7 separate regions of the Homo sapiens genome follow, and regions 1, 2, 3, 5, 6 and 7 are each linked to region 4. The links come from fine-mapping of genetic effects on gene expression. A gene starts in region 4. Each other region holds a variant in brackets. All regions are shown on one strand. Distances are between the middles of the regions.

Region 1 (4,071 bases), 81 kb before region 4:
GGCATCTGTTTCCCATTCTCTTCTTCCAACTCCAGATACACAGCACTACTTTGCCAACACACAATTTAGTAGTCTTGTGCCATCCCGACCTGAAATAATTGTTGGACATTCACTCTGGCTTCAAACTTTTGCTTACAATTGTTTGCTAGGTAGATAAATTGGTCTTATCAGAATGTACTAAAACATGAACAGCTGTGGTTTTCTCCTTTGATGGTTCAGGTGCAGGGAGAAACAGTGGAAAGGAAAAAATCCCCTCCTTTTTCTATAGTGATTGTGGTTATTCTGAAATAAATAAAACATAATTTAATTTCATCAAGCCCAACTACAGGAGATTGCCTTATTGAAGAGAAGATCATACAAACATACAAAAAGAATCTGGTCTTCAAAAAAGAAAACACTGTGCTGAAAAGGACCAGGAAGAACCTATAACATCTACCCAAAACATGTCTCAAGCATATCAATTTTCTTTCAGTCTGTACTTTATTTCACACAATTCACAGCATCCCATTCTGAAAATTCATGTATTATTTGGCTATGTGGATATTCTTAATTGAGAATACAAGTCCGTTCCACATATATTTTCTTTTTTGTTGCTGCTAAAAAAGATATTTTTAAAAAGCAAACCACTGTAATTTAACAAGAGCCAACTCATGGCAGCTATGCAAAGCCTTTAGAATTCTTGCTAAAGACAGTAAGACACAAGTAGCCAGTTTCATTTTGGACGCAGGGTGGGGAACATCACACACTGAGGCCTGTCATGGGGTGGGGGAAGGGGGAGGGATAGCATTAGGAGATATACCTAATGCAAATGACGAGTTAACTGGTACAGCACACCAGCATGGCACATGTATACACATGTAACAAACCTGCACATTGTGCACACGTACCCTAGAACTTAAATTAAAAAAAAAAAAAAAGACAATGAGGCTGGTTGTGGTGGCTCACACCTATAATCCCAACACTTTGGGAGGCCGAGGTGGGAGGATCACCTGAGGTCAGCAGTTCAAGACAAGCCTGACCAACATGGTAAAGCCCCGTCTCTACTAAAAACACAAAAATTAGCTGGGCATGGTGGCATGCACCTGTAGTCCCAGCTACTCGGGAGGCTGAGGCAGGAGAATCGCTTGAACCCAGGAGGCGGAGGTTGCAGTGAGCCGAGATCACACCATTGCATTCCAGCCTGGGCAACAAGAGCCAAACTCCATCTCAGAAAGAAAAAAAAAGACAATGAATAACTTGGTTAGCTTTAATTCATAAATTATACCACAACTAGAGCAAGTTTCAATTACACTTGCCATGTACAGTAACACATTTCCTTTTAATGCTATTTATTTATTCATTTTTGAGATGGAGTCTCGCTCTGTCACCCAGGCCGGAGTGCGGCGGCACGATCTTGGCTCAGTGCAACCTCTGCCTCTGGAATTCAAGCAATTCTTCTGCCTCAGCCTCCCGAGTAGCTGGGACTACAGGCGTACACAGCCACACCTGGCTAATTTTTTGTATTTTAGTAAAGTCAGGGTTTCACCATGTTGTCCAGGCTGGTCTCGAACTCCTGAGCTCAGGCAATCCGCCTGCCTCGGCCTCCCAAAGTGCTAGGATTACAGGCATGAGCCACCACGCCCGGCCTATTTTATTTTTTTGAGACAGAGTCTCACTCTGTCGCCTGGGCTGGAGTGCAGTGTTGCAATCTCGGCTCACTGCAACCTCTGCCTCCAGGGTTCAAGCAGTTCTCCTCTCAGCCTCTGGAGTAGCTGGGATTATAGGGTTCCCCACCCTAATTTTTGTATTTTTAGTAGAGACGGGGTTTCACCATGTTGGCCAGCCTAGTCTGGAACTCCTGACCTCAGGTAATGTGCCCGCCTCAGTTTCCCAAAGTACTAGGATTATGGGTGTGAGCCACCGCACCCAGCCCCTTTTAATACTTTTAGATGCATGTATCTGACTTTAAGGTCTGAATTCCTATGGTCTATATACTGAAAGAGAAAATACTCTTACATTATTTTGCATGTTGTATGTATGTACATGTGAGTGTGTCCAGGCTCCACTAGACACAGATGTCAAAAAAGCAGCAACTTTATCCAGACCATTTCTAACTTAATGCCAGTTATAACACTAAATGAGTCAGAAATCGGATAATGAATAAAAATCAACATAAAAACAAAAAATATTTTTAAATACCTCATTCTA[C/T]AGATATTTATGGGAGCAGGGAGTGAGGGGTATTGGGATCTTCAACAATGGGAACTCATTAAACGAACACAAAATATTTTATGTACAAGTTAGAAACCTTATCCAAATCATGGATTCATGTGAATGAGGGATGAGCTCCTGTACTGTAATCCCCCTGAACACCTGTGTTGTGAGGTCATCTCCAGTTCAATTCATTCATGATGAGAGCTTTTCCTATGTCAGGCATTGAGAGTACAAAACACATGAATCCCCCCCACCCTCAATGTGCTCAGTTTCCCTATTCTTATGTCTTGAGCTAGTCCTTCTCACTTTCTAGCTCCAATTCCTGGATTTGTAAGAGTTTCAAGAGAAGCAGCACACCAACCATTGATGCTGAGAAAGTCAGATCTATCAGTTATATGAATCCACTCAACATACCTGTAACAGGCACAGGTTTTGTTTTTATTTCCTGTTATTCTGTTTGAGGACAGCAAAAGTGAGAAAGTAAAAATTAAGGAACATGGCCTATCTTCAGTGTTAGGTCAAATGAGGGAGGTAGACAGAACAAATAACAAGAGGTCAGGAGACTACAAGTTACATAAAGTATATAAAGTGCAATCAACAAAAAAGCAAGTAACTGCTTAGAAAAGTTGAGGATGATGTCACTCAAAAGATTACAGATAATGCTGGGTCTTGAAGAAGTGAGAGTTTAAAAAGAATAGATCATATGAGAGTGCATGGCATCTCTCAGATGTATGAAATACTTATCTATGGCCGGAGTATAAAGGAGAGTACTGGGAAATAGGCTGAAAAGGTGATTTTTGATTCTGAAGGGCTTCCTTGCAAGTTGCCTACGGAATTGCAATATACAAGTGAGTCGCAGAATATTTTTAAAGATGTGTGTTTTAGAAAGCTCCAAGAGCAATGTGGACAATGGATCAAAAAAAGACAGAGGAACCAATTGGAGTTTGCCTAAATTGTGAAGAACAAGTTATCTGGCCCTTTCCCTACTCAATAGTTCAAACAATTTAAGATTTGCAAAATTCCCCACACTACAAAAATCTGCACTAAGTATATTTCCCATTCTGTGTGGTCTGTTTGTGCATACTACCTATTCAACAGATATTGTCTTCCATGTGTTGAACACTGGGAATAAAATGATGAGCAACAACAGATATGGTCCTGCCTTCAAGAAGTTCATAGTTTGATATGGGAGATAACATTAGAAGGAATTTCAAGGAAGGGTGTTGAATAGAGTGTCTGGTAAGTCTTAGGTTAAGACTGCCCTGAAGAAGTAACAATTATCAGAAAAATATGAGGAACCAAAAAGAGCATTAATCTATTTTTTACATCTACCAAAGGAGAGGATTCATAGGTAGTAAAAAGAGCATGGACTTAAAGATCCTAGGTTCAGATTCCATTTTCAATGCCCATAAACTAGTCTTGGGGAATGAATTTAATCTGTTTGATAGGATTCTATCTCCTCACACGGTTGTTGTGAGAACTGTGTGAAAGTACTTAGCACATAGTGCCTGACCGAGAGAAGGTATTCAAACAATGTACATTTAATTTCCCACTTTCTTCACCCTTCAAAATATTTATTTTCATGAAAATAAATGATTTTTCCCAGTTGTCCTAAATCAAGTGCCAGGGATCTGGTAAAAGTCTTTGGCAGCTGAAAATCTGGCCTGTTCTCACAGAATCCTGGACTGAAAACTTAAAAGTCTAATTTACGAGGGAGACTTTTGAGAACATTTTTTAATCTTTCCAGAGTACTTCCAACTTCCATTAATTCTGCTGCCAAACAAAAAGGAAGGTAGAAATACTTAAAAAAAATAGAGAAAATGCATAAAGCAGAAAATCTAGGTTTTAAAAAGCATCAAATAATATAGAACTATATAACTG
Region 2 (4,071 bases), 21 kb before region 4:
ATAAAGATTAATTTAACAAATATAAATTCTCTTTATTTAAAAATGTTTGTTTTGGTCGGGCACCATTGCTCACGCCTGTAATCCTAGCACTTTGGGAGGCAGAGGCAGGCGGATTGCCTGAGCTCAGGAGTTCGAGACCAGCCTGGGAAACATGGTGAAACCCTGTCTCTATAAAAATACAAAAAATTAGCTGGAAGTGGTGGCACGCACCTATAATCCCAGCTACTCTGGAGGCTGAGGCACAAGAATCACTTGACCTGGGAGGCGGAGGTTGCAGTGAGCCGAGATCGTGCCACTGCACTCCTGCCTGGGCGACAGGCTCTTCCTATGCCCCTGACTCTGTCTCAAAAAAAAAAAAAAAGTTTGTTTTGTGTAAAAAAAAATCTAAATGAACAAGATGGAAATAACACAAATTAAAAACAGAACCATCTTGATCATTTATAACCTTTCTCATGCTTTATAATAAACAACTCTTCAATACTTAACACATTATCATTCCAATATCATATTTTACAACCTGTCTTACCAGCACATTCTAAAATAGGTATTTTAAAAAATATTTATTAAAAATTGGAATTAAACTTACTATTTCTTTCTGTTCTCTTGGAAAAGAAGAAAATAATTACTGTTCTTATGCTCCAGATGCTAAAAGGGAAGCAAAATTCAGAAACAAAAAACATCATTAGAAAAAGCGAATTAGAAGCCATGTAAAATGAAAACATATATTTCCAATTAGAGTTAGGTACATTGTTTCCCTTTATATACAGAAAACTAAAAAGCGTTTATTTCTGCCAGAGAACATCAGAACCTGTGCTTTCAAAGGAGGAGTTCTCAACCTAAAGTCCACAGACCTTCTGATGATCCCCTTAAATTACAAAATTACCTTTGTGTGCATAAGTGCATTTCTCTGGAAAGACCATTGCTTTCATCAGCCTGAAAGGAATCTATGCACCCCGCAAAAGATTGAGAATATTAGAATCCCTTACTAAGTAAGCATCAATTCCAAAAACTTAATTTGTCTATTCCCACACATTAAGGAAAAATGCTTTTACAAATGTAAGAGCATTATACAAATGTAAGTTGCCACTCCTTCCCTATTATTTAACAATAGAGGGACAGTCTCTACTCTAAGAGATTAAGCTACCTGAAGGAAAAATAAACAAAAACCTTACCTTCAAATAAATACTTGATGAGTAAAATTAGCTAAATATCTCCTCCCAAAGATTTTATAAGGATAATTCTTTAGGCCTTGCATTAGTAAGACATCAAATGAATTGAAAGAATTAAAAGAAACTAAATGAATAATCCTCATCACAAACTTGTCAGGGTCATCTCCTAAATTCAATGTAAACATAGCAAAATACCTCTTCTCCATAGAACCTGGCAGAAATAAGTACATAAGGCTGGGCACGGTGGCTCACGCCTGTAATCCCAGCACTTTGGGAGGCCAAGGCAGGTGGATCTCCTGAGGTCAGGAGTTTGAGACCAGCCTGGCCAACATGGTGAAACCCCATCTCTACTGAACATACAAAAACTAGCCAGGCGTGATGGCACACGCCTGTAGTCCCAGCTACTTGGGAGGCTGAGGCAGGAGAATCACTTGAACCCAGGAGGCAGAGGTTGCAGTGAGCCAAGATCATGCCACTGCACTCCAGCCTAGGCGGCAGAGAAAGACTGTCC[C/CA]AAAAAAAAAAAAAAAAAGAAAGAAAGAAGTATATAAACATTATTCATCATCTTAAAACATACATTGTATCTCTTGTAAAAAAAAATTTGATTGTACTGGAAATAAATTCAGAATATAAGTATGAAAATTAGTTCTTCACTCTGAAATACAGCATTTGCTATTTTGGGGAGTTAACCTGCAAGTAGTCACCAGTGATCCCTGTCTCTTGGTATTCACACCATTGTGTAGTCCTCTCTCACCAGTGTTGGTCTGTGCCACCAACAGCATGGCAGAAGTGATAGTGTATCACTTCAAGATTAAGTTATAAAGGACTGCAGCTTCCATTTTGGGCCTCCTCTTTCACTTGTCTTTCTCTCTCCTGGATTACAAGCTCTGTGAGAAGACAGCTGTCATGATATGAGAACAGTCAAAGAAGTCTATGAAAAGGTCCATGCAGTGAGGAAGAAAGGTCTGTGGTAAACACTCAGCAAAGAACTGATGCCTGCTAACAGCCACCTGTGTGAATTTAGGAGTAGATTAGGGAAAAATCAGCCAAAGTGAGTAGGATCACACCAGATATCTTATTGGGATTTGAATTCAGAATGCATTTTGGTGGTGGCAAGACAATTAGCTTTGGCATGTAAATTCCTGGATTATACAAAGAAAAAGGAAACTAAACATAGGCTTGCCAAAAAACAGCCTATATGAAAAGAAAAAGACCTCAAGAAAAAAGCAAAAGGAACACAAGAACAGAATGAAGAAAGTCAGGGGAATTGCAAATGCCTACCGAGCAGTGAGCTGGAGATTGGATAACAGCAGAGGGAGTAAAGATCTGCAATGACTTTATCTACAGTGATTGTATGGATTTAGTTAAGCCTTGAGATGACTGTGGCCCCTACCAACAGCTTAACTGCAATTTACCTAAGAACAAAAGATCCTGAGATAGAACTACCCAGCTAAGCAGCTCTTAACATTCCTGCCCCTCAAAAGCTGAGACATAATAAACATCTGTTGTTTTAAGCTACTAAGTTTTGGGGCAATCTGTTACACAGGAATAGATAATACACTTTTTTTTAATATTGTGATGATTTATTTTTGTGACATGAAAACACCAAATAACTAGCACCAGATTCCTATTTGGCATTTGGACAATTACCTAAAAGTACAAAAAACACCAGGCTTTGTCCTTACCAAGGGAAGGGAGATAAGAGAATATAGGTTAAGCATAATGCCCATAACCCTCAAGGATTCCGCAATAATAAAAAAGTCTCGTATCACTTCTCCAGTGCAAACCCACTGAAATAGTAGCAGGCTGGAAGGAGGACTTTTAAAAAGCATACAGAGAAAGAAAACGGGGAAAAAAAGATGGAATTGCAGAGATAGTGGCTAGAATTCTGTAGGAAATGTATAAATTTTCTTAAATGAGTAGATACTTTTTAAAAAGCATATATAATTGTCAGTGTAAATACTACAAAAATTGAAATATACTCTCTTCAAAATAAAACTCACTAAATCCTCTCTGTGGACAATAAATTCCTCTGGTTTTTATCAGAATTCCTCCTAGATAACATAAGCTATCAAACAACAGACATTTCCATATGTCAAGTCTTCAAGACTTCAAAAGGTAAAACAGAATTTATTTTTCTTTAGGGCTAAATTAAATGAAATTCTTTGGTATTTTTTGTTATTTTTGTAGAGACAGGATCTCACCATGTTGCCCAGACTGGTCTTGAACTCCTGGCCTCAAGTGATTCTCCTGCCTCTGCCTCCCAAAGCACTGGGATTACAGGCATAAACCATCATGCCTAGCCCTTTTATATTTTTAAATAAAATTTAGAAAAAGAACTAAAGTACTTCAGGACTCTGTTTTAGTTATCCCAACAAAGGTTTTGCTCTCCCAATAATTAAAAATAATGTATTAAAATATAGCAACATATTTTGTGAAGATATTGACGATATTAAGGATATTATTACTAACCTCTAGTTAGAGAATAGTGGCATAAGATCCACTTCCCCCTTCTCTTCATAAAAATAATCCAAACAACAAGGAGAATAAAAATAAAACTGCAAACTACTTCTCTGGTAAAACAGAGATATAACTAAAACTCAACCATCAGAATATGTGGAGGCACTCTCAAAAGCAATGGAGATTATTACACAGGGGCTCCAAAAAGTGGAAGCAAAACAAGAAAACTGCATATTTCACAAAGAGGTAATAAGGTAAACTTTTCCAAGTGTAAAACTTAAAACCCATGTTTGTAACAATGAGAACAAGATGCACAGCTACAGGCAGACACTCCTCAGTTTGGTTCCAATAAAAAAAGAGAGAAGGCAGGAATTAAAAAGAAATTATTCAGAAGTGCACTATTTACAAAGAGTATTCTGTTCCTATGGCAAGGGGGTTGGGGGGA
Region 3 (4,071 bases), 130 kb before region 4:
ATTCAGAGCTGTTATACCACAAAGGTACTGCTTATTGAATTGGACCTGGGCTGTAATTCTTCCTTCCCATCTGAGAAACAAGGCTGCTGTGATAAACTTCTCATCAACTCCAGAGACCATTGTTGTTATCATTTGCCTACTACATGCATAAATCTTTTATTACAAAAGATAATTATTATCTGTGCCACTTACTTGATAGTCTTGTTAAATGAGTAGCTTGCTCAATAAGTATGATGTATTCAATGGGGAAAGAAATCACTCCTGAAAGGAAGAGGGGCTTGAGCTGGCAGTTGTGGGATGGGTGGAAGTTGAATATATGCAGAGAAGGAAAGAGAGTGGGAGAGGGTCAGAAGAGGATAGGGGAGTGGGGGACAGCACGTGTCTTCAGCAGAGGGTCTGTGTGAGGTAGATGTTAGCCACCTCCTTGGGATAGGGCATGTTCGAATTGGAAGCAGGCCTAGGGTATAGTCAACATTAGCCCAGACTAGGTCAAAATGACAAGTCCTTTGAAGGGGCAGCTAGGGTCAAACAATCTCAACTTAGGGCAATGACTGACACAGAATGTTGTGGGCATCAGAGCAGTGTAGGTTGAGGTGGCTGAAATCAGGACAAGTATAGAAGTAGCTTATTTTTTGTTTTTCTACTCTGCAAAATGAAGAGTCTGGCACTTGTCTTTTAAAATGCACATTAACAATAAAATTGAAATAACATATTCTATCAGATTGGCAGAAATTATTTTTAGAATATTATCTTGGTCCATTAGGGCTGCAATTACAAAATACCATAAACTGGACAATAGAAATTTATTTCTCACAGTGCTGAAAGCTAGAAAGTCCAAGATCAAGACACTGAATCGGTGTCTGGGGAGGGCCCGTTTCTTGGTTCATAGATGGCGCCATCTTCCTGCACCCACACTTGGTGGAAAGAGAAAGTTCGCCCTCTGGGTCTCTTTACAAGGGCACTAATCCCAATCATGAGATCATGATTTCATCTCCTCCTGGAGGCTTGGGTGTTAGGATTTCAACATATGAATTTTGACGGGGACACAAATGCTCAGACTATAGCAAATATTTAATGCAAGGAAGGGTACTGAAAGACAGGCATTCTTATATTCACTGGTGGGGGTGCATGCCGGAACAAACTTTCTGCAAACAGTCAAAATTAATTCATTTACTTAATTATTTGTTGAGCATTTACTATTTAGGAAGCACAGGTCTTTGGAAACATCTTGCCTTTCAGTCACCCTCCTTCTCCCCAGTGTTCTCCTGTTGCCCTCTGGCTTCCCAGAGCATCCCATCACTGATGCTACAATCTGAATATTGCAGAGCCCTCCTGATTGAGATTAGTGCCCTTATGAAAGAGACCACGAAGAGGTAGCTAGCCCCTCCCACCAGTAAGGAAAGAGCCTCACAAGACACTATATCTGCTGGTGCCTTGATCTTGGACTTCACAGCCTGCAGAACTATGAGAAACAAATGTTTGTTGTTTATAGGCCATCCAGTTTATGACAGTTTGTTACAGCAGCCTAACCAGACTAAAACACCTAACCAGACCCATCTTCTTTAAACAATGATCCAAGATTCAGACCTATCCCTCCACCTTGTTTCTCTTTTAAAACATATCTGCTTGGTATCCCATCCCACTAGGGCCCTGTACCAGCTAGCTCACCCCAGTAAAGTACAGTGAGTGACATCAAACATAAATTTAATTTGAAAAAATTCGACTTAAATTGTACCCTCCAGAATAAAAATAATTTTTTTTTGTATAACCTGAACCCTGAATGCGAGTCAAATGCTTCATCTGGTGCTCACCC[A/C]AAAACAGCAATCTATTCCAACACTGAGGAAAAGCTGTGTTAGACATTACATACACACAAAACCATGTGTAGTCGAATTTCCTGGCAATTTGATGGTAATTTTGACTACATTGAATAGTCTCCCAACTCACTAATAGAATCTGACCCTGTCTCTAAGATGCTTCTCTAACTCAGGCTGAAGAGCTAATGGTTAATAATAATGTGTTTCTTAAAGAGATATTTGTGTTGTAAAGGAGCACATTTGAAGGAGTGATGCTTTTTCCAGGAGGAATAAGCCTGTTGGAGATGCAATATTTATTTGGGTGCAGGGGGAAGGGAGGGAGCTGCCTCCTGCTTGTACAGCAGGCCTTGAATTCTGTCTTTTTCAGATTGGTTAGAAGAGCCAGGCTGGTCCAAAAAAGTGGTTCACAGTGTCTTGGATGCCCTTTCATGTACTGCACATGCTTCTGGAATAAATACTGACATCCATGTATGGCTGGGGGAGTAAAATCAACATTCACTAAGCAGGTAACAGGAACATAGTTGTATAAGTTACTCCATCATATACCTCACTGAATCCTCACAATTACTACGTGAGGTAGCTATTGTAGCTATTTTTATAGATGAGGAAACTGATGCTCACAGTACTGAGTTGTACATTAGTAAAGCAAAGATTTAAACTCCAGTCTGACTGACCACTGAGGCCAACTACAATGTAACCTTGCTCCTACTAACTTGCCTAAGGACAGCTGATAACCACTTTGAGCCTTTTGATTTAGACTGGAATGTTCCCAAGTTCCTTTGTCATGCTTTTAGTACAGATTAACTAATAACTCCTTACATCTTTGTATCATTTAGCAATTTGTAAAGCACTTTTAGCTATATTACCCCTTTCTGTCAAAACTTCATAAAGCTACAGGGCAAATATTATCACCCTCAGTTTTATAAATAAAGCAGTTGATATAACCCCAGGAAGCCTAGCAAAAAAGAAAAAGAAAAAAGAAAGAAATTGAGGACCAGAGAGTTGAGAACTGACTAAGGTCACATGGTTAGGAAAAGGTGGGCAATTTTGTGGCTAGGAATGATGGGACATTAACTCTGGCACACTCTGCAATGCCACATGGACCAAGCTTAGAATTTCATTACATCAACCGGCCACACCTGTAGAAGAGCCATCAGAAATGGATCTACCTGGCCTGGCGCAGTGGCTCAGCATTTCGAAAGGCCGAGGCGGGTGGATCACTTGAGGTCAGGAGTTCAAGACCAACCTGACCAACACGGTGAAACCCCGTCTCTACTAAAAACATATATATATATATATATTCAAAATTAGCCGGGTGTGGTGTCAAGAGCCTGTAATCTCAGCTACCTGGGAGGCTGACACAGGAGAATCACTTGAACCTGGGAGGCACAGGTTGCAGTGAGCTGAGATCGTGCTATTGCACTCCAGTCTGAGCAACAAGAGTGAAACTCCATCTCAAAAAAGAAAAGAAAAGAAATGGGTCTACCTGTGCACCAAATGCAGAGGTAGCAAACAGGAGGCCAAGATCGGCTTTGAGGAGTCTGTGTCTTTTTCCTTAGGAAACTATTTCTGGCTCATGCTGAACAGATTAGAACATTCCAAACTCATACCAGGACCTGAGTCAGAATCCAAAATATTTCTTTTCAATTTCCATAATGTTTTTCTCCTTTCTAAAATTGTTCACTTAATTAAAGATCCGCCTGTTCCTATCCCTTTCTCAGTTACCTTCCAAAGTACAAAAATTACATCAGACAAAAATTTATGTGCTTGTTCTCCAAACTGCAACGTGCTTGCATCACATCCCTTCCCAATTTTAGATTTCTCCAGTATATCTGTATCTGTAAAAGCTTTATTCATGGTTAAGGAGAAATTAGATGGTATTTGGCTAGAGATGCAAGAATATACAAATTCCATCCTCTCCACAGAGGCCCCTAGACAGCAAACACCCAAGGAGTAATAGTAGGAATGAAACAAAATATCACCTTCTTGTTAGCCAGATGGGAATATCTTAGATGAATCCTATTTCCCCTACACTACTGTGGACCATAGGGAAATCCCACTGGCCATTATCCTATATTTATGTTCCAGGAGTAATAGTGACAACCTTGGATTCCATCCCTGGAAATTTTCCCTCTTGTCAATCTGCCAACACATACCAAATCATATCTTCAGAGGCCACGAAAACTGAAATTCAACATAAAATGGGAATGAGATGCGGTTACCACAGAGCTACCATTATGCTCTGTCCTTCTAGGCC
Region 4 (4,071 bases):
GGCTATTTACACTCAGGTTTGGGTGTCAGAATTTTAAATCTTGGGAAATGTTTTTCTTAAATTTTCACCTCACTCCAAGACACATTAAAATAATGCAATAAAATAGATCTGGATTCAAAATATGGCTCAACCACATACTAGCTATGCAATCTTGAGCAGATTACTTAAACTCTGCACGCCTCAGTTATTGCATTTGCAAAATGGTAAAAATATCTACACTTCATAGAATTGTTGTATAAATTAAATGAAATTATGTATCATTTGGCACAGTGTCCGACACATAGTAGTAACTGCTTAATTGTAGCCATTATTATTACCAGAAAACACATGTATTTATATGAAACACATTTCTAACTTCTTATAAAGAAAGCACCTATTTCATAATTCTAAAATTGGAAAATTATATTAGTTTGTATTTTTACAAAAATAGATTGCTCTCATTTTCTCTAGTATAAGAAATAGAGCAAAAAATTCTGTAGACTCTGCCATTAAATAACCTTGTAGGTCTTTGAAGGAAACAGCAAAGGAAGTTCTATGTTTATCAAATTCCAAAGTTAAGTATAAGCTATTTAATCACCATCAACAGTACCTCCATAACATATTATACTATACAATTGAAGAGTAAAGGTGATTTATTCTAGAATTCTAACTTTCAAATGTCCTAACTGAAAAGACAATTCTGAAATAGCCCAAGCCACATTTATTGCTCCTCAAAAAGAATTTTAATGAAAAGTACACCTCTATTATATATTAAGCACTCTTAATATATAATGATTAGTGCTTGCTTTCATGGTAAGTCAATTTTCATCTGAACTAAATACCACCAAAAAATTACTATTTGATTATAAATGTTTCTATGTGAAGTCATATATTTTTAATAGCCATATAACTTCTCCTTTTCTTGTATTTTCTTGTTTATATAACATATAAACACTATATAAGTTTACTAACATCATTACTGAGCTGATCTCAATAGATAACAGACAACCTTAAAATTCTAATTTAAACGCACCACTCCTGTTTAAGAAAATGTGTTAAAAGTCAACTTGGTCTTCTGGGGGCTGCTGAGGAAAAGAAATGAGCATTCCCTGCCAGTTTGAACATATTCCTGAAACCAAGCTTACTCACACCCACCAAACCGCTGTTGAATAGAGTCAATTTTGTCAATGCTGACACCCAGGCCATAAAGAAAGGAGGAAACAGTAGACACCGAGCAACACACACCGGAGGCCAACTGGGAAAAGCAGAACACGGAAAACTCAGTGATTCACGGGTCTTGCTTAGTACTGTGAAAGCACCATCAGCAAAGCTGAGTTGACCAATTTCAACTCTTTCTCAATCCGTAAACTATGAACTGACGGAATTTAGATTTGTTTTTCTCCTCCTACCACGCCTCTGATACAATGCACCTTCGCCCTTCCCCTCCACCCCACAGCCCACCATCCCTGAAATAAGGACAATGGTTGGAGAGTCTCTTCTCTAAGTAGCACGTACTCCACGCCCACACGCTAGAGCCCGGCAGCATGACACTGACAGTTTTCAGTCCCTTCTGGTCTTTCTAACTCTTGGAGCCTCCGCACAACTCAGAAAGAGAAGCGGAGAGAACGCTCAAAGCGGACAGCTGAGCGTAGGAAATGCTAGTTTGGGACCTTCTGACCTCTTTGCCCCACCTGTGTCGAGATAAGCTCGACACAAGTGGGCCAAAGAGCTGGGGCTCAAGCCAGTCACCACCCGGAATCTCCTAGAACCGAGCTGGAGAAACTACCAGCCCTAGAGGGGAAACAAGGGTTTCAAGACTCCAGCGCCACCACTGCCAGTGTGCTGGGAAATCCAGGGAACAAGGCGGCGAGCCTGGGTCTGCGCGGACCACCGCGCAGCCTGACTAGCAGCCGCCGCAGAGCTCTAGGCCACTTGGCAGGAGGCGGGGGCACCAAGGAGAGGCAAGCGGGGAACCCGCAGCTTATTTCCCAGGGGCACAGCTCAGCATGCCTCCCCGCTGCAGAGCCCTCCCAACTGCCCTCGCCTTGAGCGTTCTACCTGCAAGAAGCGGGCGCAGCCCGGCCCGGGCGTCCACCCCCGCCAGTCTCGGCCGCCACCGCCCAGCCTGCCTCCAGAGCAGGCAGCAGCCGCCACTGACAGAGAGACAAGCCGGGCCAACTCCTTCCCATGAAACCCCGCGCTCCAGCCGCTCGCCAATTGGCGCCGCGGTCGGCGCGCGCCGCTCCCCCGTCACGTGACCGTACCCTGGGCGGGTAGTTGTTGGGGCGGGTCGGCCGGGAGGTTAGGATCTTGTGTTTGTGGCCTCCGCAGCCAGCTTAGGCTGCTCGGTGTCGTGTCGCAGTTATGTACTGCCATTTATTATGACTCTTAGAATATAGTTATTTCTTACTCTTCCGCTGCCTCCTTTGCTTTTAAAGCCTGTTCTGCCAAGTCTCGCTGGAGAAGGAAACCCCTGAAACTGGTCCTGGTGGTCTCAGACCGCCGCGCGAGCGAAGAGTGGGGAGGACAAAGGTTGGGGAGTTGAGAAGGATGGAGATGGGTGCATCTGGAAGGGAGTCCGTCCTGAGGAGTCCCCCATCAGCTGTCAGCCAGCCAGCAGCAAAGCAAATTAAGACTACACAGCTCCGAAGAAGCCAGTTCCCAACCAAGCCAGTGGAGAAAAGTCAGCCCGGTCCCCAGGAGTGCTTGAGGCTCTGTCACTCTTGGACGTCAAAAAGGGTCATTTGATGACTGGACGCTTACCTCACCGGTGTGAGGTAAGCTTCAAACGCCGTATCATGTTGCTTTAAAACCTGCGGGTAACAGCATAAGCTGAGTTTTCTATCTTAGAACTCTTAACCCCAAGAACACTCTTCACAGGCCCTGATAGGTGGACCCACAAAAAAACCACTCAGGCTATATTTGACTCGGATTTGAAACGCTGCCGAAACGGTATTAAGTGTCCTCCTCAACTGGAAAAGACAAATAACAAATGATGCCTGAATGAGAAAAAGACTAGACGTGCACACAGTAATGTGTGAGCAGGGAAACTTCAGCGAAGGTTTTTATCATGCTTTACCCCTTTTACATGCTTTACCCCATGTGCAAACATTTTTCATGGGTTTTTTTCTATTTTTTATTTATTTTTATTCTATTTTTTTATTTATACACAAAAAAGTTTCAATGATTTTTTAAAGAGTAATAGTTTTAATATGTTACATTTAAACTTTGACGATGCAAACAGGTTGTCAAGAGAAGCAACTGAGCATTGTTTGGTTGGTAAGAAAATTTATTATACTAGAAGCTACCGCATAATTCACTGTGCAATTTGCTTGCCCTAATTGCCTAAATATTTAGTTACAGTTCTGTACACTTGCAAGGATGAGGGGAAGGGAACTGAAGTTTAGCGTGTCACTGTGGATCAGGCACTTTCCAAATGTAGAAGAAAATGAACAGAAACATTTCACCTGTTTTGATGTGGAAATTTAACCGTTTTGTTTTTCAACCTTTGCTGTTGCAAAGTATTAAAGTCCTGTGCAGTTTTGCAAATATATCTCACCGCAGAAAGATCTCCTTTCCTAAGAAGACTGGGAAGAACGGCTTTCCACTTGCCAGTAATGTGTCCTCTGGTTTCAATTGAGCCATCAGTGTCTGTACTCCAGCCTGGGCTACCAAGCGATACCCCACCTCTGAAAAAAGGGTAGCAAGGGGACAGAGAAGAGCTGTCTGGATACACGAGATTCCAAAAACCTAATCCTGAGATAAAATTCCCTAGGGAATTGCTCTACCGAGAGTAGAGATTTGACCTGGAAAGAGAAGGGAGAGAAGTATTTAATCATTAACTCTTTTAATCCTCCCAACAACCTTTTTAGTATCATTTTTCAAATGAGGAAACTGAAATGTAGAAAGATTATGTACACTGTTGAAGGTAACACTAAGCCACTGCCTCCTTCATATCAAGAATAGTTGTTCATCGAGCAAATAAAGTGAGGGAAAGACATTACAAGCAGAGAAATCAACATACACACTATTGTGGCTGGACTTCAGGCTACAGGGTGGTTCCAAATATTTATTGACAAGGCCCTGTGTTAC
Region 5 (4,071 bases), 86 kb before region 4:
GAACATTTAAGTTGGCTGAAGCTGCGCCCAGAGCCACCCCTTCCCCCAGGTGCTCTGTCCCAGGGAGATGGGAGGTTTATCTATAAGCCCCTGACTGGGGCTGCTGCCTTTCTTTCAGAGATGCCCTGTCTAGAGAGGAGGAATCTAGAGAGGCAGTCTGGCTACAGTGGCTTTGCGGCACTGCAGTGGGCTTTGCCCAGTCCGAACTTCCTGGTGGCTTTGTTTACACTGTGAAGGGAAAACAACCTACTCAAGCCTCAGTAATGGTGGACGCCCCTCCCCCCACCAAGCTGGAGAGTCCCAGGTGGACTTCAGACTGCTGTGCTGGCAGCGAAAATTTCAAGCCAGTGGATCTGAGCTTGCTGAGCTCCATGTGGGTGTGATCCGCTGAGCAAGACAACTTGGCTCTCTGGCTTTGGCCGTTTCCAGGGGAGTGAACGGTTCTGTCTTGCTGGTGTTCCAGGTGCCACTGGGGTATGAAAAAAAAAACTCCTGCAGCTAGCTCCATGTCTGCCCAAACAGCCACCCAGTTTTGTGCTTGAAGCCCAGGGCCCTGGTGGTGTAGGCACCTGAGGGAATCTCCTGGTCTGTGGGTTGTGAAGACCATGGGAAAAGCATAGTATCTGGGCCAGATAGCACCATCCCTCACAGAAGGGTCCCTCACAGCTTCCCTTGTCTAGGGGAGGGAGTTCCCTGACCCCTTGCGCTTCCTGGGTGAGGCAATGCCCCACCCTGCTTCTGCTCACCCTCTGTAGGCTGTACCCACTATCTAACCAGTCCCAATGAGATGAACGGGGTACCTCAGTTGAAGATGCAGAAATCACCTGCCTTCTGCGTTGGTCTTGCTGGGAGCTGCAGACCGGAGCTGTTCCTATTTGGACATCTTGCCTGGGAATCCTGGTTCTTAATAATAGTAAAATTTCTAATAGTGCTTGGCAAAATCAAGCCAACCTAAGGAATGCTCATTTTACCAAAGGCATATTTCAGGATATTCGTCATTTCTTCAAAATATTGAATAAAAAAACCACTATGGAACATTTTTACAGGATATTTTAATCACTTTAAAGTATACAAGGTAAAGAGGAGTGTTGCAGATAAAAAGGCAACTTCAATAAATGGACAAGAATGGAAGTTGTGTGATACATGAAATGTTTATGGACTGAGTAATCAGATCAAGCAGTGTTCAAATCCTGCCTCTGCAGCTTACTAAGTGACCTTAGATGAGTTACTGAACTTAGAACTTCAGCTTTCATACTTATAAGACGGAGATGAAAATCATCTATTTCAAAGAATTCTTCTAAGGACCAAATGACACTGTATATAAACTGTCTTGCTGGCTATATATTATGCATTCGGTTAATTATAGTTTCTCCCATATGAAACCAGCACATCAGAGTGGCCTTCACTTATACTGCTGTACATAGACAGTTAAAATAACTACCCCTTAGGTAAATATTTCTATAAAATCTTACATATGCTATAAATTTACCTAAATTCTAATCTTTTAAATAGTGAAATTCATTCTTACCTCTATTATTAATACAAATTATCACAATTCTCGATTTGTGGAGCTTGAATTAGATCTTGCTATAATTGCTGTCACAAGACAATTCTAGACCAAACTGCTCTGACATGCATTACAGCAAACTGTAT[T/C]GTGATCATTTAAAAACGTATATCAGAACCTAGGTTTAGGAAGTTATTTTAATATCCATAAGAAGCAGTCTCGATATTAACTTAGTTGTGAAATTTCCAAAGAAATATATTAAAGGAAGATCAAAGATTATGGTGCCATATTGAGTATAACAAAGCAAGTACTTAATAGAAGACAAAATCCATTTCTCTTAATTAAAGGAATTAATGAGCTGTGTGTGTGTCTATATATGTGCCTATAAAGGGAAGGGGAGGAAATACGTAAATGCATGCAGGGAGGTTTCATACTACTCTACAAGCTGAGTGTGCTTTAAGCTGCTGCAAGAAAAAGAAATCTGAGCTTCTCAGATTCCTTCCTTCCCAACTTTTAAACCCATATCATTCATAAAGCATTCATTCCTCTTTTCTACTTCCAGAGTAACAGAGGTCCCTATATTTTTACTGCTCAAATAAACTTTTTCTTCTTCTCAGGCTTTGATTCTCTCTCCCTTTTGAAGCTCAACGTAAGTGAACTCTTTCCTGAGAGACTTTGCACATATGAAAATGCTCTGAATTTGGACACAACTATTAACATGAATTTAAACATTTTTCTGTAATAAAATGATTTGTTGTAGGTCATTATTTTAGATTTTAAACTTTTTTACTTTAAAAATTAGAATTGTTGAAAGTAATATACATCTTTGATATTAAATTTAGAAAATACAGAGAAAAGGGTAAGGAAAAAAAGTAACCCATATCCTACAACCAAAATATAATCAGTTAAAAGATGACTGTATTTCTTTCCAGTTCTTTATATATACTTGTGTGTATGTGTTCTTGCTTGTAAGAGCAGACTATATATACTGTGTAACTTTATATCCACTTTTCTCTTAATATTAAATCATGGGCATTTTCTCACATTATTAAAACTTCAAAATATATACTTTTTTTTTTTTTTTGAGATGGACTCTCACTGTGTCACCAGGCTAGAGTGCAATGGCACGATCTTGGCTCACTGCAACCTCTGCCTTCCAGGTTCAAGCGATTCCCCTGCCTCAGCTTCCTGAGTAGCTGGGATTACAGGTGCACACCACCATGCCTGGCTAATTTTTGTATTTTTAGTACAGAAGGGGTTTCACCATGTTGGTCAGGCTGGTTTCGAACTCCTGACCTCGTGATCCGTCCTCCTCGGCCTCCCAAAGGGCTGGGATTACAGGCGTGAGCCACTGTGCCCAGCCTAAAACTTTGAAATATTGTAAATGCATTATTTGAACACACTCTCCCACTTCTGAACCTTCTGATCACCTATTTTTTCCACTGTCATTAATAATTCTGTCATGAACCTCATTTTACCATGCAACAGGCTTTGGCCTACAGAATCCAAGCTCACACTCAAAATACATTCTGAGGAAGAAATTATAAAGAGGAGTTACTAGGGAAAGGAGTGAGACTAGGCATCCAAGCCCCCAGCCTGCCTGAGTATGAGGGAAAAAAACACATTACCATTTGACAGCTGCTCTGATGCCTGTAAAGAGTAAGTTAAAGGGTTCCAATGTCTTTCCCATGGCCAGAGGTTCACATGGCTTCAGATGATACCAAGTGGTCTGTACTTGATTCCAAACTTTAATAATGGTAGTTCATGTGAGCAGAGCTACAGGGAGCAAGTATGATCCCACACACAAAGCACCTCACTCAGACAGTTTTGGTTTAAGAATACAGCTGTGTACATATCCATTTATAAATGTGTAAGCTAAAAGGACTAAAGACTCACTGGAAACCCAAGAGAAACAATTAATGTGTTACAATGATAGATTGCAGTGAAATAGCTTTTTAAAACTTTTATCATTGTGCTTTAGATATCCAATATTCGAAACAAAGAGAGAGAAAAATAGGCAGACATTCATTTAAAAAAAGAACTAATTTTATGACTTCGTTGCATAAGCAAGAGCTTTCTGGGAGGGGGAGACAAAGGGACAATTAAAGAACAAGCTGGGGTGGGGAGGGGTAGAAATACAGTCTTTACAATATCAAACCCAGTATGATATCTTATGATTCCTTATAATACTCCCTTCTTACTTTCAAAATTCACCTTTACTAAGTGACAAGTTACTAACCTGACAAGTTTTAAGCTATTCTTATATTTGAAAGCGATCCTTGATAAAGCTATCAGAAGTCTAAAAATATTCAAGACCCATGCACTGAATTTATTTGTATATTAATTTTGCCGCTAGTGTGGCATGGCTGCTTTTTCTCCTGACAGTATGGCTTCTGGCCATAGGAATATTTTGAAGAATTCTTTAATGCCTGAAGAAAGGGTAGTTGAGATCCAATTGATTTTTTTTTAACCTAATCAATCCAAATATTACAGTAATGATAATATCTTTGATAGTTAGCTATTCTCCAAGAAGAGAGCTACATTTCTCCCCTACTGACTCACGGTCC
Region 6 (4,071 bases), 31 kb before region 4:
TTTTTCTTTTCTGCTTTCCTTTGTCTTCCTCTTCATCTTTTCTACTTTAACTAATATTTCTCCATTTTGGTATAAGCAGGACTTGTCTCTGATCACCAGTACCAGCTCTTCTTTTTATCTCATCAGCAAGTCAAACCAATCATATCACAACTTCTAAATCACTGACACCATCAGTATTTCCTCACTTTGAATTTCTGGCTGTTCCATAATGTGCAGAATAGCAGAAACATAATAATAAGATATTTCTGTGTTTGGCAATTTAGGACCACCAAAATTGCCAATGCAGTTTTGATAAATACCTCACAGGACACCCAATAAGGAGCAAACAAAGCTAAGGAATCCTTTCAAAATTAAAGTTCTCTTACTTTTCAGGTACTTAAAGCCCTTAAAACCAGTATCTATTATCATCAATTCACAGAATAATTTTTAACATTAGTCTTAACCTTCACAATATTGGTTTCTTAATTATTACTTGTTACATACTAGACTAAAATATATTGAATTGATCATTTGTACCTGATTAAATTTTATTAAATACATTTCTATACAACATAATACTATCAGCAGTTATCATTTTCACACTTCAAAAATAATCATTAAAAAATTAGTAGCTCTATGTCAAACACCAACTTCAATTCACTTATTACAGACTACTATGTATCAATATCTAGAGCGCCTTCTGTCTTACTCTTGGTCCTCTTTCCAACACATCTGAAGGGATGCATCAACTAGCCCCACAATAGATATCCATGTGATCAGAGTTACTGATAGAAAGTGGAAAACTCTGAAGAAAACAATTATCTCTCTCTCTCTCCCATCTCTTCTTCAGTATTTTCATGTTGAATTGCTCTCTTACAACCGATCTTCTTGATTCCCTCTCTTTCTTGGTGTCAAGAAAACCTGAGAACTGACACGTGGAGATATTTTGTCCTTTTTTATTTAGCTCTAATAAACAATCTGGTACCCACATTTTTACCCTCTCTGCCTCATTTAGGCCTCCAATATGACTCATTTACTTACTTCTCAGCTTCCAACTGATACAGATTCTCAGAATCTCAAAAGTCCTTCTAAACTACTTTTTCCTGTCAATCATTATTAACTAGCAAAAATATTCACAATTTCACTTCATCATTAAAATGCTATCTAAAAGCATATTTCTTCCTTGGAGAGTTATTAACTTCCAACACATAAACATTAATTATTCAGTTCTTATTAGTTTAATATAAATTAATTTTAAATAAAAGTTAACTTACTATTTTTTTCCTCTGGGATTTTAAATCATCCAATGCTTCATCTAGAAAGCAAGATTTAAATCAAAGATTAAGATATTTAGATATAAGAAAAAATCACGCCAAATGACACACGGTAGCAAACACAAGAAAACTTTCTTATTTTAGGATTTTTCAAAATTTAACTGATGTGTAGAGACAAAAATTATCTCCATCTTCACCCACATATAGTTCATATTTTTGCCTGTATTATATATTATAGGCCATTGAGGTGAAAAATTGACTTTACATAGTATAAAGCACCTTTCTAAATTGAAATATATACAAATACTTTTTAATGTGTTCAGAAACATTACTTTCTACTATTTCTTTTTCCTTTCAACACCTCACCCACATTAATTTACAAAATTAGTATCAAATCTCTTTTTATACACTGGTAATAAAAATGTTCTCTTTGTTTATAAGGAAATAAATACATATTTTACTTAGTCAAGCCTGAAGATATTAAGCACGACTTTTTAAAAAACCTAGAAAATCTACCTTATTGCATCTGAGAAGGGACATGGAAAAAAATACTAATAACTTTCCAAAATTAAACATTTCTAAGATTTGCCCGCTTATATAGGTTGGCATGGTGGAACAGAAAGAATCACCTCAGAGGATATCTTTTATGAATGTCAATGTTTGATTTACAAATTATTTAAGTTTCTAGTTTTTCTCTAGAAATATTTAACTAATACAGATTGAAACACTATTCCCTAAGGAAAGCAGAACTTATGGCTTGAATATTATCAAATGAAATGTAAATAACTGTTCTTAATACTTAATTAAATTTATAAATAAAATTATTACTTCTTCACTGAAATTCTAGGTAACAAATACCTGAATACCCAACTCAAAGTACATCATTTATGTAAAA[A/G]TTCAAGGAAACACAAACATATAAAAAGATGATTTTACTATAAAACTTTTTTCAAAATAGATTAAGCAGTCTTTAATGTGATAGCTAACTTGTTACTAAAAGCAGAGGAAATCTGCTAACATCTTCAAAGAGAATAGTAATTTTTTGTTAGATAAGACCAAGCCAAACATCTGTACTTTAATCCAAGGGTTAGCAAACTTATTCTGTAAAGGAAAAAGTAAGTATTTTGGGCTTTATGGGCCAAAAAGCAAAATCAAGTCTGTATTTTTTTGTTTTTTGAGACAGGGTATTGCTCTGTCACCCAGGCTGGAGTGCAGTGGCATGATCTCGGCTCACTGCAGCCTCTGCCTCCAGAGTTCAAGCAATTCTTATACCTCAGTCTCCCAAGCTGGAATTACAGGCGTGTACCACCACACCAAGCTAATTTTTGTATTTTTAGTACGGACAGGGTTTCTCCATGTTGGCCAGGATGGTCTTGAACTCCTGACCTCAGGTTATCCACCTGCCTTGGCCTCCCAAAGTGCTAGATTACAGGCATGAGCCACTGAGCCCAGCCTAAGAAATACAAAAGAAATACAAAATTTCCACAAACTTTATAGACTAAATTCAAATACAGGTTGAGTATCTCTTATCTGAAATGCTTGGTGCTAGAAGTGTTTCAGATTTCAATTTTTTTTTTAATTTTGGAATATCTGCAGAATACACCCCAGCTGAGCATCTCAAATCCAAAAATCCAAAATCCAAAATGCTCCAAGGACCATTTCCTTTGAGTATCATGTTGGCATTCAAAAAATTTTGGATTTAGGGGGATTTCAGATTTTGAATTTTCAGATTTGGGATGTTCAACCTATATAATAATTGAGTTCAATTTTTTGTAATATAAGTCTACCAGGGAAAAGAATGTAATACTTTCAGGGGTGGATAACATTTCACTTAATTGAGGTTCAAAGCTAAGTGTTCTCTATCATCAAAACTGATTGCAAATGATAATCCATTAATGCTGATCTGTAATGAGATTTTACATATTTGATTTTTTAATGTCTTTTCACAGAGGTAGTTACTGCCAAATACTGATATCAATCCACAGGCATAGGATTTTAATTGAGCATATTCACTAGTTTGAAAGGCATTTATAAAATTCTATTAGATTCTTCTCTTGGCATTTGCCTTTTAGAGTATTATTACATTGGAAGTTAATCACCTCCAATCAAAGACTGAAGCTCTTCAATTATACAGTGAAATGGATTTAGAAACACAGAAATTTCCTTTGCACTTGCCTTGAGGTCTGAAAAATTCTACTGGAACTATAATTTCACCTCGGATAATGCATCTGCTACAAATTTGTGTGGGAATGGCAATCCTGCTTCTTGTTTCCATTTTTATAGCACTTTTAAAAAAAATTACTTGTCATTACAATGTTGTTTTCTAAATGACTTCACCACATTATAGGTTTTGCATATATACATTGTTTTGCCTTGCAATCTTAGGTTGGATTAATTAAGAACCATTATCAAGGCTGTAGCAAAAGCTAATTTCCAAAGCCAGTCAGTATTCAAACACAGTGACTGAAGATGGTCCTTCTCATTTGAAGTATTTCAATCTAGGTTTTGAGCTCAAAATATGACAATAAAACTTTGCCATTGCTAAGCCATCAAACTGCTGTGAGGCAAGTCAAGATAGCTTCTATTCATGATTGAAATTCACATAACTGACAATGGTTAAGTCCATGAGAGCAATGAAGTTCCCTTTGGCCCTACAAAATGACAAATTCAAGTATGTTCTGTGAAGTACCTGTTGTTGAATAATACAATGAATAACCATAGACTGTAAACACCTTACAGTTTCAAAAGTTTTGTACAATTTGTACAACTAAGTCTTTTTCTGTTACATATTTTTACCAGCAGTAGTTACAGTACATCTTAG
Region 7 (4,071 bases), 22 kb after region 4:
TATGCTACTTAAAGTAAAATTAACTTGCATTGAGATTGTCTTATTCAAATTTTACTCTCTCAGAGCTCTGTAGACTTTTTTGTGGCTCCGATCACAGTTTAAATTGTACATTTATTTTTATGATCATTTAGTTAATGTCTGTCTTCATCACTCAGCTGTGGATCTACGAGTGCTGTTTTTGATCACCAGCAGTACATACAGTGCCTGACACATAGTAGGTATTCAAAAAGAATTTGTTGGCTGAGAAAAATTAATGAATATCTAAATATAAAAATACATATATTAATTCTCAAAATAATCTTTACCAAGTATGTGGTATAAGTATTATTACTACTCTGTAAATTATAGAAAATGGATAATACAAATGACTCTTGTCCATAGAAATGCAAATGATTTTATCCAGTATAACGCAATTGATTATTGCTATCAGGATAGATTAATTCTGCATCAATTTTCAGCATTCCTTATTGCCCCTATGTATGTGGTTCTTTGAATTCTTTTTTTAACTACTTATAACATCTTACTGGTTCCCTCATTAATTATGCATTAAAAAGGATTTTTGATATGTGCTAGTTTTATGTTTGTATGACAGTCATGATGTTACCTTCTTTTAGAAAATAACATTTAACAGTTTAACAATACCTTAATACCATCTTAAATAGTGCTAATAGGTTACTGTATGTACACAAAAGTATATTGAGAATGAACTACATGAAGAGTACTGTGCTATGCCTGAACATAATGAACAACAATATAGTGATGGAGTCTGGTATATAAACCAATGGCAGGAACTGAATATCTTTATCACACTTCTTACTAGAATTTAGGCCAGATGTGGTGGCTCATGCCTGTAACCCCAGCACTGTGGGGGGGCTAAGGTGGGAGGATGGGAGGATCACTTGAGCCCAGGAGTTTGAGACCAGCCTGGGCAACAAAGTAAGATCCTGTCTCTACAAAAAATCAAAATACAAAAAATAAAAAAATTAGCCAGGCATGGTGCACACGCCTGTGGTTCCAGCTAACAAGAGGCTGAGGCAGGAGGATTGCTTGAGCCCTGGAAGTTGAGGCTACAGTGAGCCATGTTTGTGCCCCTGCACTCCAGCCTGGGAGACAGAGCAAGACACTGTATCAAAAAAAAAAAAGAATCTAGTAAAGCTGCAAAGAGATTAGTAAAAGAATTATGCATACATATTTTGCTTTTCATCATTATTGTTACTTCATACAACCACAAGTTACTAGCACTGCACTGTATCAATGGTACCCCGTGCCAGTTCTCTGGGATTTGCATGTCAGAGAAATATTTTATCTAAACCATCCATGTGAATATTTCAAAATATTCCAGTTTGCGGTTAAATTCATTCTTTTATTTCATTTTTTCTTTTTCCTTTTGTTGTTTTTTGTTCCATTTTTCGTACTTTATAAATGAATAATTACTTAAAATTGGAAAAAGAGATATCTCAAGCATTGAAATTTCAACTCCATACATGTTTCAAGGAGTGCAAAAGGTTATACTTGAGGGGGTACTAAAATTACTTAAGATTTTTTTCAAACGAATGCCAAAAACTGTATCTGCTAATAAGTTTTGCCCAGCTTGGAAACCAAACTCACCCACAAAGTATGAGAATGCCAGATATACGACAATAAATATTTTTGGCATAGTTTCAAAGCTACATAATGCCAGACATAGACATGTAAAAGTAATGGCAAGAACTACAAAGATTATAAAAGAAATAAAGTCACAGTTCGTAATTCATATGATTATGTTCAATAGCAGGCTTAGACGGCTATTCACATAATAAGATCCACATGTAAAAGCATCAGCTTATTTTACTTGGTAAAAGATAACAAATATTAAAATGGCTTTTAAAAGTAAAATTTTGTTGAGAGCTTGTAAATGCATTTTTGCAAGCTCAAGGAGAATAGCTGAAATTGTTTTTTTGTTTCTATTTAGATTTCCAACTTCTGCTTCCCTTTTCGTCACACTCAGAAAAGTTAAGTAAAAAATGAAAGAAAATACAATCTCAAAGATCAAAACAGCTTTTAAATATTGTCACTATAATCTGTGTATTAAAACTGGAGTGTAGGGGGAAACACCATTCCCCCAAAATTAAATAAATTCTGCATTGCATTTAGAGAAAGGATGAGGGAAATACAGCTGTCAGATGTTCAAACCTTGATTTCACTATTGGGCACAGATTATGGTGCTCAAAGCCAAAGTGAATAAAGCCAAAGCAATTCCCTTGTATCCTCCACTGCAAGGTGAGTATATAAAGCTGGTTTTTAAGAGCAGAGATTCTAGCAATATTTTTTGCTCCTAGGA[A/G]TATTTTATTTTAGACCCAAGAAAATCAAATTAAATAAAGTTTGTGATGGGTTTGATTTTCAAAGATAAAAGAAACACATCTTTGTGTTTTCTGTCTGCTTAATTTATGGATTAGAAGTGGTCAACCATCAGGGTGGGCTAATGAAAAGCAAGACTGAGGGGAAAAGCTAGTGGAAGAAGAATGGAAGAAACTGTAGAATCTGAGATAAACTGTCAGTGCCTCAGGCAAGATAAACCAGAACACCACAGTGCCAAGAACAGCTAGCCTGGGGTTCAGTTCTTAGTCACAAGCAATACAGTGAATTGCGGTTCATTTTTTTAAAAGAAATTTGACTAACATAGAAAACAATAATTCAGTAGGTGAACTGAAAATAATCACATTGTAAGATTTTATATTAAATACAGTGAAATATTTTTGTCCGTACTATAGGTCTATATTGTATTGAATTTTTATTCTGCTGTGAAAATATAACAAAAGCTTTTGTTCCTTTTCAACCCAATGAAAATTTATAATGTAGGATAATTACATTGCATCTCTTATCTATCAGCTGTTATAAAATAAAACAATAATGTTTTGCAAGCACATATTTTTTTCCTTAGTTCAAACTTTGCATGAAATTTTTAAGTAGCCCTCTAGCAAAGCACTGTTTGTGTTGAATACATTTGTAATGCATTCATGGTGATATACACTTTTCTTAGATATTAGTGAAAATTTTTTGTTACAAAAAGACACTTTTCGATTGAGTTCTGTCCCTATTTACACATGGATCCTTTTAATGGATGTTGAGAGTCTTGATTTAGAACTTTTAATAGGCTCGTTTACATTTTGCAAATCTCTACCTTTGAAATAAAAAAAAAAAAAAAAAATGCAGTGATCCACCCATCTGCAGACAATTAAGACCAGCAGCCAAGTATAAAAGGGTGGAGAACTTTTAATGGGTGTTTATAGATTGGAAGCACCGACCCCCTTTTGAATGGAAGAGGCCTAAGAAGAAATAGTAAGTGTTAAGGATAACCATGAAATTCATTTAACCCCCCAAGCAGAAGATCTGTTATCAAAGAATTTGCAGGATTCTACACCTTCCAACTTAAGGTTCTCAGCTTAAAGTACTTTAAAAAGAAATATCTTATTAGAAGTGTTTTGATTATAATTTCTTAGCTGCTTGAAGGTCAAAACGCAAGCCAGCAGGAAGACCAATAGTAAGGTATGTGATATAAAAACAAATATTTCCATAAAATCTTTGCCCTAGCAAAAAGAGAAATTCTTAGTAGGTTCAAGGTGGGAATTTAGGGAATAGTATTTTTTTACAGGAAATACTGGTTAGGCGTTTTATATAGGGGGTTCTGCGTTTGTGAAGGGATAATTTGCTCTAAAATATGTGGGCAACCAGCCTAAATTCTCTAATTGAGTAGTTTGCTCATAACCCGAGGCCATTAGGTGAATGTAAACTGTTACAGGCTTAGTAAGAAAATAGTCCCATTAGGATTTTTTCTATTTGTATGTGGTTGCAGGTTAAAGTAACTGTTTCCAAAATCATGGATTAATGAAAAGCTCTTTTTTTCTGAGTTTGCAAATACCAGCTTTGAAATGCTCAAACTCAAATTAAGCCAAGGGTTCTTTTTTTTTTAACAGTTAAAAAATCTTTTACAAGATCAAGTCTCAACTATAAGTTCCATTGTAAGTTATCTAAAAATAAAAATTAGAGATGTTTAATTAAATGGTTGTTAATAATAAATGAAAAACAGCCATA

Alleles and levels. Positions count from the first base shown, and alleles are read on the strand shown. Sizes are in standard deviations (SD) of each study's normalised expression. Not every link is listed here.
As copies of C replace T in region 1, the expression in anterior cingulate cortex of the gene that starts at base 2,145 in region 4 goes down (small effect, 0.33 SD a copy in GTEx).
For the expression in CD4 T cells of the gene that starts at base 2,145 in region 4, C is the high allele of the variant in region 5 and T is the other (moderate effect, 0.49 SD a copy in Kasela 2017).

The links. PIP is the estimated chance that this variant, and not a neighbour inherited with it, causes the effect.
Region 1: its variant is the best candidate, but not a certain one, in a credible set for the expression of LNPK in anterior cingulate cortex (GTEx, PIP 0.51).
Region 2: its variant is the best candidate, but not a certain one, in a credible set for the expression of LNPK in monocytes (Quach 2016, PIP 0.52).
Region 3: its variant is the best candidate, but not a certain one, in a credible set for the expression of LNPK in aorta (GTEx, PIP 0.62).
Region 5: its variant is the best candidate, but not a certain one, in a credible set for the expression of LNPK in CD4 T cells (Kasela 2017, PIP 0.72).
Region 6: its variant is the best candidate, but not a certain one, in a credible set for the expression of LNPK in whole blood (INTERVAL, PIP 0.88).
Region 7: its variant is the best candidate, but not a certain one, in a credible set for the expression of LNPK in T cells (TOPMed, PIP 0.73).

Annotation. Positions count from the first base shown.
Region 1 is chr2:175,919,538-175,923,608 of GRCh38, forward strand. No RefSeq gene overlaps it. Among named protein-coding and RNA genes, the nearest start is that of LNPK, 81 kb to the right of the region's middle. The variant C/T (reference allele first, on the strand shown) is at 2,188.
Region 2 is chr2:175,979,224-175,983,294 of GRCh38, forward strand. LNPK (lunapark, ER junction formation factor) reads right to left here. Exons shown (of 13, transcript NM_030650.3): 5 at 587-645. Among named protein-coding and RNA genes, the nearest start is that of LNPK, 21 kb to the right of the region's middle. The variant C/CA (reference allele first, on the strand shown) is at 1,681.
Region 3 is chr2:175,868,057-175,872,127 of GRCh38, forward strand. No RefSeq gene overlaps it. Among named protein-coding and RNA genes, the nearest start is that of LNPK, 130 kb to the right of the region's middle. The variant A/C (reference allele first, on the strand shown) is at 1,814.
Region 4 is chr2:176,000,123-176,004,193 of GRCh38, forward strand. LNPK (lunapark, ER junction formation factor) reads right to left here and starts at 2,145. Exons shown (of 13, transcript NM_030650.3): 1 at 2,038-2,145. RefSeq lists an enhancer at 2,339-2,558.
Region 5 is chr2:175,913,869-175,917,939 of GRCh38, forward strand. No RefSeq gene overlaps it. Among named protein-coding and RNA genes, the nearest start is that of LNPK, 86 kb to the right of the region's middle. The variant T/C (reference allele first, on the strand shown) is at 1,654.
Region 6 is chr2:175,969,511-175,973,581 of GRCh38, forward strand. It overlaps LNPK (lunapark, ER junction formation factor), which reads right to left. Exons shown (of 13, transcript NM_030650.3): 6 at 1,254-1,294. Among named protein-coding and RNA genes, the nearest start is that of LNPK, 31 kb to the right of the region's middle. The variant A/G (reference allele first, on the strand shown) is at 2,149.
Region 7 is chr2:176,021,712-176,025,782 of GRCh38, forward strand. No RefSeq gene overlaps it. Among named protein-coding and RNA genes, the nearest start is that of LNPK, 21 kb to the left of the region's middle. The variant A/G (reference allele first, on the strand shown) is at 2,321.